Homo sapiens: one gene and its partner. The protein of the gene in region 1 interacts with the protein of each later gene in a pairwise test. Each region holds a gene or a part of one and is shown on either strand. Other genes may lie near its edges.

Region 1 (4,470 bases):
AGCAAATGACAGAGACTCACTTGAGTAAGAAAGGTTTTTGACAAGAAAACCCACAGAAGAAGAGATAAGCTGTGGATATAAGAAAGGCACTACAATCTGTATTTAAATCTAATTGCACACTAGATAATATATGTATGAAAAATTATTTAATCCAGTTTCCTGATTTCATTATATATTTCTTATAAGGTTTTCATTAGGCTTTTGTTTTTGTTTTTGGTTTTAAATAAAAACACTTTATTGCACAAATCCCACAAAGGTCTCAGGCCCTGGGTCCAAGCCCACAGCCCCAACCTGTCCCCTGGCTCTGGGCCTGGTCTTTGGTGCCCACCCTGGCCTCACATGCCAACGTCTTCTGTGGAGTGTGCAGGTGTCCATGAGCGTTCCTGTGTTGGGGGAAGCCTGCCTGGGCCACAAGTAGTCAGGCACTGTGGCAGCCTCACGATGAAGACAGGTGGGGTGGAGTTGGGTCCCCACCTGCCCAGGCTCAGGGGCCACAGGGGTCTACACAGTCCTTTCTGCTTTGAAACACGTGGTAGATGCTGGTGGGAGGGAACATGGCACCGGCACCAAGCAGGGAGCCCACTTGGATGGCCACACCAGCTGCCAGCAATGCCGGCCGACCCCCACCATGCAGCAGGGAGCTTGCAGCCACCTTCACATATGAGAACACACACAGACACAGCACCCACGACAGCACCTGCAAGGGAGGACACAGCAGCAGGCTGAGCATGACATGCACTTGCTCCAGGGGACACCCTCCTCCCCACTTCATGTCTCCACTTGCTCACCACAAGGACCACCCCTGCAGTGGTGCCCACCAGGGGTGGGCAGGGGCTCAGGATTGCCAGTGCCATCAGGTAGGCCCCAAAGAGCATGCCCAGCAGAGAAAGACCAACCAGCCCTGCCAGGGACCTGTTGGGGATGAGCAGAGACTCAGGGCTGGCTGTTCTGGGACCTGGACCCCAACCTTAAGTTCCACCCACCAAGCCTGGGGACCCTTTTGCACCTGCACAGCACGCCCATGGCCAGGAAGCAGGCAAGGGGGTTGGCGGCACTGCCCAGCACCACAGCCAGGTGGTAGGCCAGGCGCCCATAGGGCAAACAGGAAAAGCTCTGCACAGAAGGCAGCACGCCATTGGTCACGGCACTGGTGAAGGCCATCAGGCCCAGCAGGAAGGCACCATGGGCTGAGAACAGCTGATGGGCCTCAGGGTCTGGGCCAGGGATGGTGCCTGCTGCCTGGCTCGGTGGCTCCTGCAATGGCAAAGCCTCTTCTTCCTCCTTCTCTTCCTCCTCTGCTCCTGGGGATCCCAGTTGAAGTTCAGGCCCTGAGCCCCCTGTGGTTACAGAGGGTAGTGATGGCAACAGCAACAGGAGACCCCGGAAGGCGGCAGCTGAAGTGACCAGAAGGGCAGTCAGTGCCCAGAAGAAGGTGCTGGCAGGAAAACGCTCAGGGAAGTCGAGGGGAGGCCCAGAGGTGCCATTGGTGGGCGCTGGTGGGCACTCGAGGCGGCCCACACCTTGCACTAGGGCCAGCACACAGGGGAGTAGGGCACTGAGACCCTGACCCAGGAAGAAAGACCGTAAGAAAGGAGGTGGCAGGTGGCTCAGGAAGGGCAGGAAAGTGACATTAGAGGTACAACAGGCCATTGCCAACACCAAGGCCAGAGTTAGGAAGGCCACAGAGTGGAGCTGCCCTGCCACTGGGGCCACGTGGTGCCACAGAGGGGCCAGCAGGGCTGTGCCCACTACACTCAGCACCTGTACCACCTGGATGGGGACCTGCTCGCCCTTGCCCGGGGCCAGCTGCCTCCACAGGGTCACCACCAGCAGACCCAGGTTTCCCAGCGCCACAACCACAGAGAGGTATGAGGGGAGGCTCCAACCTGCAGGGAAGGAATGATGCCATGTCAGGAGCACAGTGGCTAAGGGACAAAGAGCTGCCACAGGCCACCTTTCTGGGCATACCTGCCCCACGCTTCCCTGTACCTCCCTCCCACTCACCCTCTGGAAGGTCTTTTACCACCACAGGCAGCTCCACCCAGATCCCGTTCACAGCAGCCCAGGAGCCCATGCCAAAAAGGGCCACCAGCAGGTGGGTCAGCACCAGACGGCCCAGCGTGGGTGCTGCCATTCAGCCCAAAGCTGGACCCTCCAGGACAGGGCAAAGGTCACAGGCAGGTCCTTCCCTAGGTAGGTCCAAAGATGCTTTGGTTCTTCTGGAAACTGAAGACCTTCTAGCTGGAGGGAAACAGACAGGCTGGCAGGTAATAGGCTGGTGGGACAGAACCGGAGTCAGAAGACAAGTCGGTCAGACTGCTAAGACCAGGGCAACTGGAGGGAGAGGTGGCCGGGGGCGGGCGGGGAAGGTGGGGAGCCAGGACTTACCACGGGGCACCGGCTGTGCGTTTGGGTACAGCGACCCAGCAGTGCCGGCAGGCAGACAGGCAGAAAGCTGGCCCGAGGTGCAGCTGCCCCAGAGGAGCAAAGAGGGAGCTGATTTTCCTACCCACAGAGGACCCGGGGTCCAAGTTGTCAAAACAGCTCAGCACTGGCCGGGTGCGGTGGCTCACACCTGTAATCCCAGCACTTTGGGAAGCTGAGGAAGGCAGATCGCCTGAGGTCAGGAGATTGAGACCATCCTGGCCAACATGGTGAAAACCCGTCTCTACTAAAAATACAAAAATTAGCTGGTCGTGGTGGTGGGTGCCAGTAATCCCAGCTACTCAGGAGGCTGAGGCAGGAGATTCACTTGAACCCGGAAGGTGGAGGTTGCAGTGAGCCAAGATCACACCACTGCATTCCAGCCTGGGCGACAGAACGAGATTCGGTCTCAAAAACAAAACAAAACAAAACAAAACAAAAAAACAGCTCGGCACCAACACGCTCACCCTCAAATGGACCCCGGGACAAGGGCACGTCTCTGGTGCCACTTGCAACCCTAGCGCTTTTGCGACACTCAGGACTTGCTGAGGCAGGTCGAGTTGGAGAGGGGAGTGGCTGGGGCGGGCTCTGCCCGGAGGGGCGTCTCCGTGCTGCCCTCCCGCCTGCCTCAGGGGGGCATCCCGGGAGCCGCCAGGTGCGCAGGGGTCCCCGCACCTCCGGATCCGGCAGTCCCCGGACCCAGCGGCTGGCGGTCTGCCTGAGAGGGAGCCCCCTCCGCCGGGGAGGCGGCCCAGCCCAGAGCCCACACAGCTGGGGTTTTGTTGTTTGTTGTTTTAATTAATTAATTAATTTTGAGACGGGGTCTCACTCTGTCACCCAGGCTAGAGCGCAGCGGTGCGCGATCGCGGCTCACTACAGCCTCAACCTCCCAAGCTCAAGGGATCCTCCCACTCAGCCTCTCCCCACCCCCCCACAAGTAGCTGGGACCACAGGCGAGCATCACCATGTCCAGCTAATTTTTTTTTTTTTTTTTTTTTTTTTTGGTAGAGACAAGGTCTCACTATGTTGCTCAGGCTGGCTTGGCACTCCTGGGCTCAAGCAATCTTCCTACCTCAGCCTCCCAAGTAGCTGGGACTACAGACGCACCACACCTAGCTACCGCCACGCTCAGCTGTTTTTACACTTTTTTTTTTTTTTTTTTTTTTTGAGACGGAGTTTTGCTCTTGTTGCCCAGGCTGGAGTGCAATGGCACGAGCCTCTGCCTCCCGGGTTCAAGCCATTCTCCTGCCTCAGCCTCCCGAGTAGCTGGAATTACAGGCGCCCACCACCATGCCCTGCTAATTTTTGTCTTTTTAGTGCACAGGGTCTCGCCATGTTAGCTAGGCTGGTCTTGAACTCCTGACCTCAGGTGATCCACCTGCCCCGGCCTCCCAAAGTGTTGGGGATTACAGGCGTGAGCCACCGTGCCTGGCCAGCTGTTTTTACACTTTTAAATGGTTGAAAAAAAATTAGCTGGACGTGGTGTGCACACCTGGCTAATTTTTGCTTTTTTTTTTTTTTTTTTTTTTTTTTGAGACGGAGTCTCGCTCTGTCGCCCAGGCTGGAGTGCAGTGGCGCGATCTCGGCTCACTGCAAGCTCCACCTTCCAGGTTCACGCCATTCTCCTGCCTCAGACTCCCGAGTAGCTGGGATTACAGACGCCTGCCACCACGCCTGGATAATTTTTGTATTTTTCGTAGAGATGGGGTTTCACCATATTGGCCAGGCTCGTCTCGAACTCCTGACCTCAGGTGATCCGCCCGCCTCAGCCTCCCAAAGTGCTGGGATTACAGGCGTGAGCCACCATGTCTGGCCCTTTAATGATATTTTGTACTTGTTTACTCACTGACCATCTCAGGGATTACCCTGACCTACTACCCATTTTTGTATGGCCTGCTAGCTAAGACAGGTTTTCACATATTTATTTATTTATTTTTATTACTATTTTTGAGAAAGTGTCTTCCTCAAAAGGAAGTGCAGTAGCACAATCACAGCTCACTGCAGCCTCAAATACCTGGGCTCAAGGATCCTCCCACCTCAGCCTCC
Region 2 (3,802 bases), on another chromosome or scaffold:
CCGCCATCCTCGGGAACACCCAGTGAGTACCAGTGTGTGCGGGTAACCAGTAGTCCCATCCCAAACAGCCCAGAGAAAGGCTTTCCCAGCACCGGGCTTCCAGAATCCTGTGCTAAGCTGACAGTACAGAAGAGGCAGCCAACAGGGCTCTGAATCCCAAGTGCCTGAAGGAGGAATGAAACAATCTCACCAGAGAGGAAAGGACAGCTGTGACAGTCACCCTCCCTGAACAAGACCACTGAGACCAGGGATGGACATCTTCCAAGCTAACCTACAGTGCAGGTAAGAATGGGAAGCTGCATTTTTAGATAACTATCCATTAGAAACCAGGACGACATATGAACAGTGTATCTTGGTAGCCTTGGATGCTCAAGGATGAGAAACCCTGGGCAAACCAGGCAAAAATTCTCAACCACAGGACAGGACAAACTGGCCCAAAGGTTCCTTAGTTACAGAGTAAGTAAGAAGAAGCTGTAATTCTACCCCATCTGGGAACATTAGGAAAAAGACAACATCTGATACTCTGATTTCAGTAGAACTGGATTCTTCCAAAAATATAAATGTCAAAGTCACCCATTCACAGTATAATTTGTACCAAAGTGCAAAATGGGGTATGTATGTGTGCCAAAGAACAAAATCTACCAGAACTGAGCTGCTAGGGCAAAATTACAACAGAAACTTAAAATAATATATTGTCCCATCCACCTGCCAAAACATTAGCTCAAAGACATTCCTCCTTTAAATACAGTTTTACTAATTATAAGAATAGTCATTCAATAAATATTTCTTGAGCACTATTTTAGGTGCCACAAACACTGCAGTGAGAAAAACAAAGTCCAATTTTTCCAGTCTTTTCTTTCTGTGCAAATACATATATCTCATTAAGCTAACACGGAACATGGGAAATTGCACCCAGATGGTTTCACTTTTAACATTAAAGTTTCTCCCACAAAATCAAATGTTCTTTGAAAACGCCATTCTTACTGGCTACATAGTATTCTAACATGGAAATGGTATCATGATTTACTGAAAGACACTCCCAAATGCTTACCACAAGATAAAAACACAAAGGAGAGACATCATTAAATAGAACGTTAGACCTAGATTCAGAGCCTTAAGGAAAAAGAAGAAAAAAAAGGAAAATACAATCTTACAAATCTCAGAGACCCCACTATTTTCCTCCACAGGGATGAATATTCACATCCACACCACTGGCCACATCAAGCTCTAATTTGTGCATCTCCCTTTATAAGCCCCACTCCCTCTTTGATCGAAGAGAACATTGTCTGCACAGAACAATACGTTTTCATTTCAATTTCCCTTCTTTTCAGGAAAGGAAATGTTTGCACTTCAAAGGGTTTCTTTGAAGAGTAGCCCTTCAGCTCTGGCCCGTCCAGGTTGGGCGTTACGTGGACTCAGCAGGGTGTGTGGAGTCTGGGCGGCTGCCCACCGAAGTCACTCTCAAGGCCAGCTCCTTCAAGGAGAGGGTCTGGGGCCGGAGTAGAAAAAACAAACACATGGAAAAATACTCAAGGCTTTTGATCATGACCTTCAGAGGCCCATTTTCACACATAACATAGACTTACAGCTCAGGGAAACTGAGGTACAAATGATGGGGAGCTGAGGACAATGACGTAGTAGCTTCTAAGAACAAAATCCTTCCAGAAACCAGACTCGCTTAGCAAAGACCCGTTCTGGGCCAGGAAAGGGGAGAGCCACTCTCAGTTCCAGCTGTTATGGCGAATGGACCACCTAAGCGGACAAAGCAGGGAAGCGAGATCCAAACTTCACTACCTGCACCAGTTTTAAAACCTTTCCCTAGGAACTTTTGAGAAGCACAGTCATTGGCAAACAGCAAACTTCACATGGTAAAATTTCACATTTTATTTCTTCCGTAGCCCACTGGTAGGGGCCAAGAGGCTCATTAAAAGGCAAGTCTAACAACCACATGAAGCACCCAAGAGCTCACTGATATGGGGCCAGTGCTGTTTCCCTCAATCACGCTCCAGGCCCCATCCTTAACCTCTGCCAAGTCCAGGAAGCAAGGGGTATAGACCAGACAAGAGTGGGCCTGCAACATTTCTTTTCAAGTCTCAAACAAGTTCTGGATATTTATTAACGATCTCCACCCTTCCCCACCTGGAGGATATGCACCACAAAGGCACCACCAAGGCTGGTTAAGTCTGCCTGCTCGGTGGGCACCTGCCCAAGGGGTGGGCAGGAGCATGAAAGACCGTCAGCTCCAGACAGGGGCCGGCTCCTCCCACAGCCCCAGGACTTGGCTGCGGGGCTCCTGACTAGTGTGTGGGTGGTGGAGGGATCACGAGTCTGTGTGGCCAGGTCACCAGAGCTGAAGGAGCTGAGAAAGTCTTTCCACCACCTTTCTGGTCGATCACTCAGCCTCTGAGCTGGAATTATGAATGGGTTTTATTTTCTCCTTCTTTTAATTTTCTGTAGTTTCCAAATTTTCCACAACAAACATTCTAACTTTTAGAAACACTTTTTCTTAAAAAGGCTTATGAGGTAGAAAATCACACCTCTTTTGAAAGAACCCCCACACTGCAAAACTCCTTCCCCAAAAATACTTAGCTATAAAGGACATTATGTGGACGACTGCAAGTCAAATATGGACTGTGGCCTAGATCGCAGGGTTGTATTAATGTTAAATTTCCTGACTTTGCTATTGTACCATGGTTATGTGAGAGAAGAGCCTTGTTCTTAGGAAATATACACTGAAGTATAGAGGGCAAATAAAATGGCATGACGTCTTCAGCTGACTCTCAAATGGTTCAGAAAAAAATGTATGTGTCTGTGTGCATGTGAGTTTGTGTGGGGTGGAGAGAGAATAGAAGGAGGCAAAACATAACCCACCTGTGCATCTGAGAGACGGTACCCAGGAGTTCCTTGCACTCCTGCAAATTTTCTTTTCTTTTCTTTCTTTTTTTTTTTTTGAGACAGTATCTCACTCTGTTACCCAGGCTGGAGTGCAGTGGTGTGATCTCGGCTCCCTGCAACCTCCGCCTCCCGGGTTCAAGTGATTCCTGTGTCTCAGCCTCCCGAGTAGCTGCAACTATAGGCATGCGCCACCAACACCAGGCTAACTTTTGTATTTTTCGTAGACATGAGTTTCACCATGTTGGCCAGGGCTGGTCTCAAACTCCTGGCCTCAAGTGATCTGTTTGCCTCAGCCTCCCAAAGTGCTGGGATTACAGGCGTGAGCCACCATGCCTGGCCTCTGCAACTTTTCTTTAAGTTTGAAATGTTATCCAAAAACTGCTGAAAAAGAAAAGGGGAAAAGGAGAAGGGCAAAAGGGATGAGGGAAGAGTTCTCCTAACTCTAACTGCCAGTCTTTCCCAGGGGCCTTCACTGGGTCCCAGAAACTGCACCCTAACGCCCCCAGCTCCTAGACCAGGCCTCATCCCAAGGGAGGGCAGGAGGTGTCCCTGACACTGTGGAAAAGCTGCGGGCCAGGAAGACTCTCCCAAGTCACTTTGGGGAAGACGGGCCCTTGCTGCAGGCCCTGGTGTGGACAGCTCCTGCCCCAGCCTCTCTGAGAGTGTTAAAGATGCATCCTCTAAGGAAAGGGGGCACCTCCGCAAGATATTGTAGAAATCAGCAAAGCCAAGCCAAGGGCAGGATGACAGCGGCCACTGGCCTTAAGAAGGATGGAACACAGAAAAGGAAGCTGACTTTCCCCTACGAACAGTCTCTGATTTCCACAAGACCCCCTGCAAAGGGGTCTCCCCAGGTGGAGATGGAGGTGGAGTGTGGGCGTGGCTGGATGGTGATAAATCAAACAAG

The links.
Region 2: the proteins of SLC52A1 (region 1) and SLC7A1 interact in binary tests that used the Homo sapiens proteins (3 or more experiments, as listed by UniProt).

The regions. Positions count from the first base shown.
Region 1 is NC_000017.11:5,032,473-5,036,942, forward strand, and holds SLC52A1 (solute carrier family 52, riboflavin transporter, member 1 precursor), read right to left. Parts: upstream 2,955-4,470; 5' UTR 2,389-2,954; intron 2,276-2,388; exon of another isoform or gene 2,242-2,275; 5' UTR 2,135-2,241; coding exon 2,005-2,134; intron 1,887-2,004; coding exon 1,007-1,886; intron 913-1,006; coding exon 789-912; intron 698-788; coding exon 485-697; 3' UTR 130-484; downstream 1-129. UniProt on the Homo sapiens protein: Plasma membrane transporter mediating the uptake by cells of the water soluble vitamin B2/riboflavin that plays a key role in biochemical oxidation-reduction reactions of the carbohydrate, lipid, and amino acid metabolism.
Region 2 is NC_000013.11:29,585,571-29,589,372, forward strand, and holds part of SLC7A1 (high affinity cationic amino acid transporter 1), read right to left. Parts: intron 1,223-3,802; exon of another isoform or gene 1,155-1,222; intron 1-1,154. UniProt on the Homo sapiens protein: High-affinity, low capacity permease involved in the transport of the cationic amino acids (arginine, lysine and ornithine) in non-hepatic tissues.